2 separate regions of the Homo sapiens genome follow, and region 1 is linked to region 2. The links come from fine-mapping of genetic effects on gene expression. Tissue or cell type: whole blood. Region 2 holds a variant in brackets; the other region holds the start of a gene. All regions are shown on one strand. Distances are from middle to middle.

What was found. PIP is the estimated chance that this variant, and not a neighbour inherited with it, causes the effect.
Region 1: ZC3H15 starts here. The variant in region 2 is fine-mapped to the expression of ZC3H15 in whole blood (INTERVAL, PIP above 0.99).

What each region holds. Positions count from the first base shown.
Region 1 is chr2:186,483,559-186,488,558 of GRCh38, reverse strand. It overlaps ZC3H15 (zinc finger CCCH-type containing 15), which reads right to left and starts at 2,299. Exons shown (of 10, transcript NM_018471.3): 1 at 2,102-2,299. The coding sequence starts at 2,176. It overlaps LOC105373785 (a long non-coding RNA gene), which reads left to right and starts at 2,559. Exons shown (of 2, transcript XR_001739147.3): 1 at 2,559-2,759. It also overlaps the pseudogene DPRXP1. RefSeq lists an enhancer at 2,190-2,669.
Region 2 is chr2:186,396,765-186,402,487 of GRCh38, reverse strand. No RefSeq gene overlaps it. Among named protein-coding and RNA genes, the nearest start is that of ZC3H15, 87 kb to the left of the region's middle. The variant G/AG (reference allele first, on the strand shown) is at 3,143.

The DNA of each region.
Region 1 (5,000 bases), 86 kb before region 2:
GGTGACATATTGTAATGGTTCCCATACAAGAGAATACTTTTCAGCAATAAGGAACATACTAGAAATATACACAACATGCATGGATCTCAAAAACACTGCATGGTGTGAAAGCAAGAAGAAGGACACAAAGGCTACCTACTGTATAATTTATATGAGTTCCTAGAGTGGTAAAAACTAATCTATCCTGTCAAAAAAATTAGTGGCTGCACGTGTGGAAAGAATTAAATAGAAAGAGGCACAAAACAAATTTAGTGGGGTGATAGAAATGTTTCAAGTCTTAATTAGGGTGGCAGCTACCTGGGTGAATAAATTCCTCAAAACACATAGAACTATACATCTAGAACCTGTACATTTTATTTTACATAAGTTATACCTCAACAAAAAATAAATTAAAAAAATAATATATATTAAATGTAGAAAACACAAAATCGGGCTTAATTTCACCACTTTGTTGTTGTTAATATTTTTAGTTAAAAAGTGCAGTTGTCTTATTTTGCATTTTTCTTTGGAGATACCTTCATTATTGAAACTAAAATTGCTTTCTCTTTAGCTAAAAAATAATTTCGTCACAAGATGACTAGAATCATAACATATGCATCATTTTAAAAGTTGATGGATACTATAAACAACTTTCACACATAATTCCTTAAAATAAGAATACTAGTCCTACTAATTAAAAATAAAACAATTAGATATAGAGAAAGCTCTACAATGCATGAAGTATAATTTAAATTGTCTAAATTATTACATAACATTTAATTTCAATGGGAGTTTTACTTCGTATCAGGGTCCAATCTCGAGGAAAACGACATCCCTAAAATGTCCTTGGTTTTCATAAAAGTGAATGCCATCCGATCAGCAACCCCTGAAATTTACCTAAGTGCCACGAATCCAGATTGTTCAAATAAGGTAATAGAAAACACAGATGTGAAGGTAATATTTTGTTTTTAAGTGTCTGGCTATAGTACTTCATGACAGTTTTAAACTGTACAAATTGGCAATAAGAATACCAGTTCTCCTCCAAAGTTGGAACCTGGCCAAGTATAGCAAAATTCTTAAGCATTTTCTTAAATCCAATGAGCAGACTTTACACCTTATGCGGTAAAATGGTCATGGCTTTTTCTAATTATATCCAAAGTACAAGAGGTCCTATTTAATTATGAGGAGGATTAATAGCAGAAATCGAGGGAAGAAATACCTCGTTGGGGTCTGTATGGTATGTTTACGTAATGTCAAATATGGTTCATCTTTTAAGGAAACTCAATTCAGTTGTTGGAAAACAAGTGCACAACATGTAAGAACGTCAATAGCGTTCCTTGGCCATTAAAGGGCTACAGGCTCAATGTGTTAAACGAATATATATACACACACATATATACACATATACACACACATAGATGTATACATATATACACGCGCACACACACACATATATCTCAAACTGGGTTACGGGACTTCACACAATTAGTGACACTGAAACCTAATCTCTTTTAAGGCGTTATCCTATTTAATCCACTTCAGAATGTAAGTACCAAGCTCTGCGTTCAAGACCCTGGGTTGTGACGGAAAGTCCTTCCATTCTTTATGGGACTTTAAACATTTCAGAGGTGGATCGAAAAAGCCACCAAGTCGTAATTTGTTGGTTCAAAAGAACTAACAGTACCATCCCTGGGTGACGGGTAAAGAAATAACGAACACAAAGACTCGTCATGAGTCGGTCTTCCAGAAAGACGCTGGCCCGAGACCGTTCAGCGTATTTCTTCACACATAACCTTGGAAAATCTCCTCAATTCTGAGAGGACTAGCGAAGGATAAAACCCTGTGCCAGTCCCGAGGGGTCATTTCGCACCCGGGTGCATGGGTGGGTGAACACGGGCGTGTGGGCGGAGAGGCAAAGCCCAGGTGCGGGGGCGCCAGCAGCGTCACTATAGTAATGAGAGAGCTAGCGTCATCAGGGGCTGGAGAAGGGGCAGTGGGCCACACAGGCCTAAGGGAGGAACACGTGGCCCGAGGAAGCGAGCCGGCTCCCAGGGAAGCCCGGAGCGGGGAAGTGGCTTTCCGGAGGGCTCGCGGCGTGAGTGGGGGAGGGGTGGGTACTCACTTCGATAATCTTCTCCTTCTTTTTTTGCTCCGCCTTTTTGCTGCCCCCGGCCTGAGCCTGTTTCTTGGGGGGCATTGCGGAGACAGATGGCACCGGCCAGACTTACGCGCAGCTGAATACCGTCAGGGGTTCTGGCCCTGCGGCAGGACGAGGAGGAAGACCGGGGCCTCACTCGCCGCACCGCACGGAAAGCGAGTCGCTCATTGGCCCCGCAAACGCGGCCTTTGCGACAGGTCGATGTCGCAGAGCATAGTGGGTAGCGAGGAGCGGCTCCCGGAAGCGGAGCTGCGCGTGCGCGCCCACTGCGTCCCACTAGGAGGGGGCAGGGACGGGACGTGGGAAAATGACTACGCGTCACTCGTGATGTCGCGCATCCGATAGGCCCTTTTCAGATGGCAAAAGGCCTGAGGGTGAATCTGGGCGAGCTGGTTGAGTCCATGCGTTTGTGCTTCCTCTCAGTCCACTTTCGCTTACGATGGGGCGACTCTTGTCCATCGTCACCTCACCGGGAAACTTTTCCTGCCGGGCCAGTTAATGGTCCCCTGTACCATCCCCATCCTGAGTGACTACTAAGCAGCCGCAGCGACTCGGGGTTGCTCCGTGACCACGTTACTCAGTTAACCTTCTTGTTCCCTGGAGAGGCGGAGCTGAATGGCCCGTGAGTGTCGCGTGCTTCAGATTCCTGCGAAGGATTATTTAAAAAATGGAAAAAGTTAACTTTCATTTGCAGGGTCCCTTTCATTTGAAGAGCATCTGAGATGGCGTCCCAGATAAGGAGGCACTTGAACTCCTTAGAAGTACTGTATTAAGTTATTTTGAGACTTTAGGAGAGTGCCTAGGTGATTCCTAAAAATTCCTTTATAACGTGAAAGTAACCAAACTTAGTTAGAACTTAGTTTAAGTGCTTGGTAGCTCCAGAAATTCCTTGGCACATTACACACACTATTTCATTTAGTTATCACAACGACACTTAGGTGGGAGTTGTTACTGTTTTCGTTTTATAGATGAAGCAGAGAAAGGAAGAAAGATGCCCAAAGTTATATTAAGGACAGAGCCAGCAATTGTAATCTTGGCAGTCCGGCTTCAGCCTATATGCCTATTACCTAACATTACAAACTTAGATCCTGTTTGAAAAGGTACTTGAATGATGAATGGGACCCATTGATATTTGTACAAACGAAAATACTATTTTTTAAAAATGTACAATGCTTAGCTGTTATTTTTTAAAATGATTATTGTTTAAACTATTTCTGTTAAGAAGCATTGTGGAACCAAGAATCATCTTTATAGATAAAAGTTTTTTTATCTTTTTCATTAATTTGAATAGGGAGAAAACGATAAGCCCCCCTACTTAGTCAAATTGATTATTTGCTTAGTAATTTTCTACGTAAGATAATGTCAAGGAACCCCAAGTATGTTTTGTGTGTGTATGTGTGTGTGTAGAAGAAATGTGATAGCTACTAAAAAGAATTGTGTCGAGAATGGCAGGTGTATGTTGACACACTTTTTTTCATTTGGGCTCATATTGGCAGGTTAATGGGCTCCCCCCCTTTTACATATTTTCATCTTTATTTTTTGTAATTGTCATAGTTCTTGTCAGAGGATGGAGGGATGCAGCCAGCCCCCTCTTTACTCAGTATTATTATCCATTTGATTATTTGGGGATCGTCTCCTTTGAGACTTTGTTTGCATATGGAATGTAGTTGTCTTAACTTCCTACTTTTAGTGCCCCAAAGATGCCCTTTGGGCCTTTGATTTTGAGTAATTTTACTGATTATTATTATGAGGCAAATGAATTATAAGTAACAAATATGGGGAAGTTACAAAGAATCTAGAGTCTCATAATGTTATGATAATGGCTCCAGTTTCATGGTTCATAACTTCTTCTGTCTCCTGACCTTTGCTTTCGGTTTTTTCCTCTGAAGTGTAGCCCAGGTAGAGAACAAAGATCCTTTCTTGCCTCAAGTGGAAAATACACATTTCTGAATATAGTACATGCTCTTATAGCACTCTCCCTCGTACACTATTTCTTCATACATTTTAGAAATAAGGAAGTCCAACTCATTGAATTCACTACTTTTTGAAATAAGGTACATGGTTTTTCCTGGTCTCAAATAGCAAATGGTAGCAGGGCTGGGACTTTTATGTCTTCTACTGCTATTTTTATTGACCTTACAATTCAAACGAAACTTTCACAAAACAGTGCTTAGAAGGCATAGTCCAAGGGTTACAATTCATATACCCAAGAAAGCAGGGCTATAAACTTGAGCGTCAGGATGAGTGAAATACATTAGGAAGTTGTGGGAACAGTGTTAAACCTGAGGTAAATGCCCACCGTAAAAGAACTAAAAGAAAAACTGTCAAACCTGACTGCTTCGATTTGGTAGACAGGCTGTGAATTTACTGCCTTGGATATAGCCATTTGGATAACTTTACATTTATTGGAATGTATCAGATGTAATAGATTAAGGCAGTAGATTTTGTACTGAATAGAAATTATTGTTTGCTATCCAGCATTCTAATGTCCTTCTGTATAGGAAGGAAGCCCTATGTCTCAGGCTTTTAATCTCAAGAAAACAAGACAAAGACTCAAAGTGTAGGAATTTTTCAGGGCATTAGAGTGCATGTATGGTATTACCAGTCCAGTGGCGGCAGGCCAGTGTGGCAAGATCCATACAAGTCCTTACTTCATTCTTTGCTATTATTTCTTGCTTCTTTTATTTCCCAAGCCTGATTTTCCAGGCTTCCTATAGATTCTGTGAACAATATTTCCATAAACATATTTGAAGACATAGCTAGAAGGTGGCCATCTGCAAGCCAAGAGAGAAGCCTTGGAAGAAACCAAACATGCTGACACCTTGATCTCAGCCTACTAGCACCCAAAACTATGAGAAAATAA
Region 2 (5,723 bases):
AGAGTGGACAGGCAACCTACAAAATGGGAGAAAATTTTCGCAACCTACTCATCTGACAAAGGGCTAATATCCAGAATCTACAATGAACTCAAACAAATTTACAAGAAAAAAACAAACAACCCCATCAAAAAGTGGGCAAAGGACATGAACAGACACTTCTCAAAAGAAGACATTTATGCAGCCAAAAAACACATGAAAAAATGCTCATCATCCCTGGCCATCAGAGAAATGCAAATCAAAACCACAATGAGATACCATCTCACCCCAGTTAGAATGGCAATCATTAAAAAGTCAGGAAACAACAGGTGCTGGAGAGGACGTGGAGAAATAGGAACACTTTTACACTGTTGGTGGGACTGTAAACTAGTTCAACCATTGTGGAAGTCAGTGTGGCGATTCCTCAGGGATCTAGAACTAGAAATACCATTTGACCCAGCCATCCCATTACTGGGTATATACCCAAAGGACTATAAATCATACTGCTATAAAGACACATGCACACGTATGTTTATTGCGGCATTATTCACAATAGCAAAGACTTGGAACCAACCCAAATGTCCAACAATGATAGACTGGATTAAGAAAATGTGGCACATATACACCATGGAATACTATGCAGCCATAAAAAATGATGAGTTCATGTCCTTTGTAGGGACATGGATGAAAGTGGAAATCATCATTCTCAGTAAACTATCGCAAGAACAAACAATCAAACACCGCATATTCTCACTCATAGGTGGGAATTGAACAATGAGATCACATGGAAACAGTGGCATTTCTAAATAAAGTCTGATCACAAGCTTCTAAGTGTACTAATACTTACTACATAGCATTACTACTAGAAACATATAAGTAAGATTCTTCTTCCAAAAGTTTAAGTTTCTGTTCTGGATTATAAAAGCATAAGTAGCATTATTGCTTCTAAAATTCATATTTAAGGCTCTTAGTAATAGCGATACTATATTCAGAGATGAAGAAGTATAATATTTCCTTATAATAAAAAACTCTACTATAAATTTTCTTGATTAACTTTTATCCTGTTTTCTACATCATAACTGATATTAGAACTTCCTTATTTCAAAGGAATATTTCTTATTCCTTCTTAGTCCTTAGGAATATAACTGATTTTTGTTGCTTTTGATAGGTAAGTAAATGAACAAACAGATGGAACTATAAAAAATTATTTACAGGACTGATAAATGTGCTTGCATTTGTCACATTTTAGAGCTATGTCTATGAATAGTAACTACTAATCTTTTCTTCATTTTTCTTCAGGACTGAATTTGTAAGAAAAGTTTTTGTATTCTCCTAAATTGTCACATCATAGAGACTATATTTCACTTATCAAAAAGCTTCCTGTGAGACCATTTCTCCATTGGTAAGCCTTCAAACCAGTAGGCTATATTTGCTGCAGTTAATCATATAAAACCATCTGCCAGCATTATGAGAAAATCTTGTCCCATTCAAATTCCTGAAGACATATTCTGATTACAAAATGTTTCATAGGTATTGAAGCTTAGGAAAACTAAAATTAAGGTTAGACTATATTTTATTAACAACTGCATGTTGATTACTTTTGTTAATGAAGGATAAAAAATGATCACTATTTACATTCTTATAGTTATTAACATTCAATTATCAGAAATAAAATATTGTACACAGGAATACAAGTACCTCTGGAAAGTTTACTTTCCAAGTAGAATTGTTTCAGAGTTTAAATTTGTACTGGCCAAAAAAAAAAAAAACTTGTACTGGCTTGGAACTTTATAAGTAAATTGTTATTGATGGTGGGATGGGGCTGAGTGGTAGCCAGAAATGGAAGTGTATTTTATATTCATTTGCAGTCAGCAGAAAAATCCAAAATAATCGTGGCTTAAACAAGATATTATGTATTTCTGTCTCACACAAATGTCTGGAAGTAGATGATACAGGATTGGTGTAGTCGTCTCATAATGTTGGAGTTGATATTGTGTTTTTTCTATATTTCCCTTCAATATTGTGTCCTTTCTGCATTTCCAATATCCCCCCATGATTGAATAATATTACCCCAGCTCCAGATATCTCATCTGCATTCTAGACAACAGGAGGGGTAAAGTGAGAAAGAAGGGATAAAGAACATGTGTAGCTTTCTATTGAGAATGATTCTTAATTTCTATTAAGAATGATTTGCTAAGAACACTTTATATTATTTGGCCACTTCTTATTCACACAGCTACCTTTAACTGCAATGGAGTTTGTGAAAATCTTCTTTCTTCTGAGTGTTTGTGGGTCTAGATAAAATTCAGATTTTATGACTAGCTTTATGATGAGGTAGTGAGGAACAACTACTCACTGGCATAGGTAGTCTTTAACATAAAATAATAGCTTTGTAATGCATTTTTGAAAAAAAATTGTTAATGGGGTTCAGAGAGAAATCTTGTCTTAAACCTAAGCATTTAGCTTAAAAAATAAGCTTATTGGGTATTTACAGAAAAAAAAATTATTTTTAATGAAATGGAAACTTCGCATATAATAGAAATGTCTCCATTATGTAAATTATTATTAATCCAAATAATTAATTTAAAGCATGATAGCAGCCAAATGTCAAGTTTAAATTAGCCAGCATTGAAAGAAGATTTGATATAAATAAACATGCTCAGACATAACTCATATGGGAACTTTTCAGTAATATGCATTGCTATGGATAATTTCAATTTTTTTGATCAGTTAAATATCTTTGTTTATATTCTGTTGGACAAAATTAATATTATTTTATTTAGCAAATGTAATATTTCAAAATAGAGAAATTGAACTTTACCAAAATTATTATTTTTTATTTCAACAAAGGACATTATCAATAAAGTTTAAAAAATACCTCACAGAATGAAAGAAATATTTGCAAAGCATATGTCTGATAAGAGTCCAGTATCCAGAATATATAAAGAATTCTTCCCACTCAACAATAACAAAATAAATGACCCAATTGAAAAATGGGCCAAGGATCAGAGCTCACATTTCTCCAGAGAAGATATACAAATGGCTAATAAGCATGTGAAAACATGCTCAACATCATTAATCATTAAATAAATGCAAACCAAACCTCAATAAGATACCACTTCCCACCTTTAGGACAACTATAACCAAAAAAAAAAAAAAAAAAAAA[G/AG]AGAAAAAGAAAAAAGAAAAAAAATGTTGGAAAGGATGTGAAAAAGGCAAAGCTCTTGTACATTGCTGATGAGAATGGAAAGTGGGGAAGCCGTCATGCAGAACTGTTTGGCGGGTGCTCAAAAAGTTATATATAGAATTATGGTGTGATCTGGCAAGTTTTCTCCTAGATATATACTCAAAGAATTAAAAACAGGTGTTCAAACAAAAACGTGTACACTAGTGTTCATAACAACATCATTTGTCCCAACCAACGGGGGAAGGAACCAAAATGCCCATCAACAAATGAATGGATAACCGAAATATGGTATATCCATACAATGGAATACTGTTTAGTCATAAAATGTAATAAGTACTGATTTATGCTACAACATGGATAAAACTTAGAAACATTATGTTGTGAACATACCAGAATCTCTGGGACACATTTGAAGCAGTGCGTAGAGGGAAATTTATAGCACTAAATGCCCACAAGAGAAAGCAGGAAATATCTAAAATTGACACTCTAACATCACAATTAAAAGAACTAGAGAAGCACGAGCAAACACACTGAAAATCTAGCAGAAGGCAAGAAATAACTAAGATCAGAGCAGAACTGAGGGAGATAGAGACACAAAAAACCCTTCAAAAAATCAACGAATCCAGGAGCTGGTTTTTTGAAAAGATCAACAAAATTGATAGACTGCTAGCAAGACTAATAAAGAAGAAAAGAGGGAAGAATCAAATAGACACAATAAAAAATGATACAGGCGATATTACCACAGTTCCCAAAGACATACAAACTACCATCAGAGAATACTATAAACACCTCTACGCAAATAAACTAGAAAATCTAGAAGAAATGGATACATTCCTGGACACATACACCCTCCCAAGACTAAACCAGGAAGAAGTTGAATCCCTGAATAGACCAATAACAGGCTCTGAAATTGAGGCAATAATTAATAGCCTACCAACCAAAAAAAGTCCAGGACCAGACAGATTCACAGCCAAATTCTACCAGAGGTACAAGGAGGAGCTGGCACCATTCCTTCTGAAACTATTCCAATTAATAGAAAAAGAGGGAATCCTCCCTAACTCATTTTATGAGGCCAGCATCATCCTGATACCAAAGCCTGACAGACACAACAAAAAAAGAGAATTTTAGACCAATATCCCTGATGAACATTGATGCAAAAATCCTCAATAAAATACTGGCAAACCGAATACAGCCACACATCAAAAAGCTTATCCACCATGATCAAGTGGGCTTCATCCCTGGGATGCAAGGCTGGTTCAACATATGCAAATCAATAAACGTAATCCAGTGTATAAACAGAACCAAAGACAAAAACCACATGATTGTCTCAATAGATGCAGAAAAGGCCTTTGACAAAATTCAACAGCCCTTCATGCTAAAAACTCTCAATAAATTAGGTATTGATGGGACGTATCTCAAAATAATAAGAGCTATTTATGACAAACCCACAGCCAATATCATACTGAATGGGCAAAAACTGGAAGCATTCCCTTTGAAAACTGGCACAAGACAGGCATGCCCTCTCTCACCACTCCTATTCAACATAGTGTTGGAAGTTCTGGCCAGGGCAATCAGGCAGGAGAAAGAAATAAAGGGTATTCAATTGGGAAAAGAGGAAGTCAAATTGTCCCTGTTTGCAGATGACATGATTGTATATCTAGAAAACCCCATTGTCTCAGCCCAAAATCTCCTTAAGCTGATAAGCAACTTCAGCAGTCTCAGTATACAAAATCAATGTGCAAAAATCACAAGCATTCTTATACACCAATAACATACAAACAGAGAGCCAATTCATGAGTGAACTCCCATTCACAATTGCTTCAAAGAGAATAAAATACCTAGGAATCCAACTTACAAGGGATGTGAAGGAACTCTTCAAGGAGAACTACAAACCACTGCTTAACGAAATAAAAGAGGACACAAACAAATGGAAGAACATTCCTTGCTCATGGGTAGGAAGAATCAATATCGTGAAAATGGCCATACTGCCCAAGGTAATTTATAGATTCAATGCCATCCCCATCAAGCTACCAATGACTTTCTTCACAGAATTGGAAAAAACTACTTTAAAGTTCATATGGAACCAAAAAAGAGCCCGCATCACCAAGACAATCCTAAGCCAAAAGAACAAAGCTGGAGGCGTCACGCTACCTGACTTCAAACTATACTACGAGGCTACAGTAACCAAAACAGCATAGTACTGGTATCAAAACAGAGATATAGACCAATGGAACAGAACAGAGCCCTCAGAAATAATACCGCACATCTACGACCATCTGATCTTTGACAAACCTGAGAAAAACAAGCAATGGGGAAAGGATTCCCTATTTAATAAATGGTGCTGGGAAAACTGGCTAGCCATATGTAGAAAGCTGAAACTGGATCCCTTCCTTACACCTTATTCAAAAATTAATTCAAGATGGATTAAAGACTTAAACGTTAGACCTAAAACCATAAAAACCCTAAAAGAAAACCTAGGCAATACCATTCAGGACATAGGCATGGGCAAGGACTTCATGTCTAAAACACCAAAAGCAATGGCAACAAAAGCCAAAATTGACAA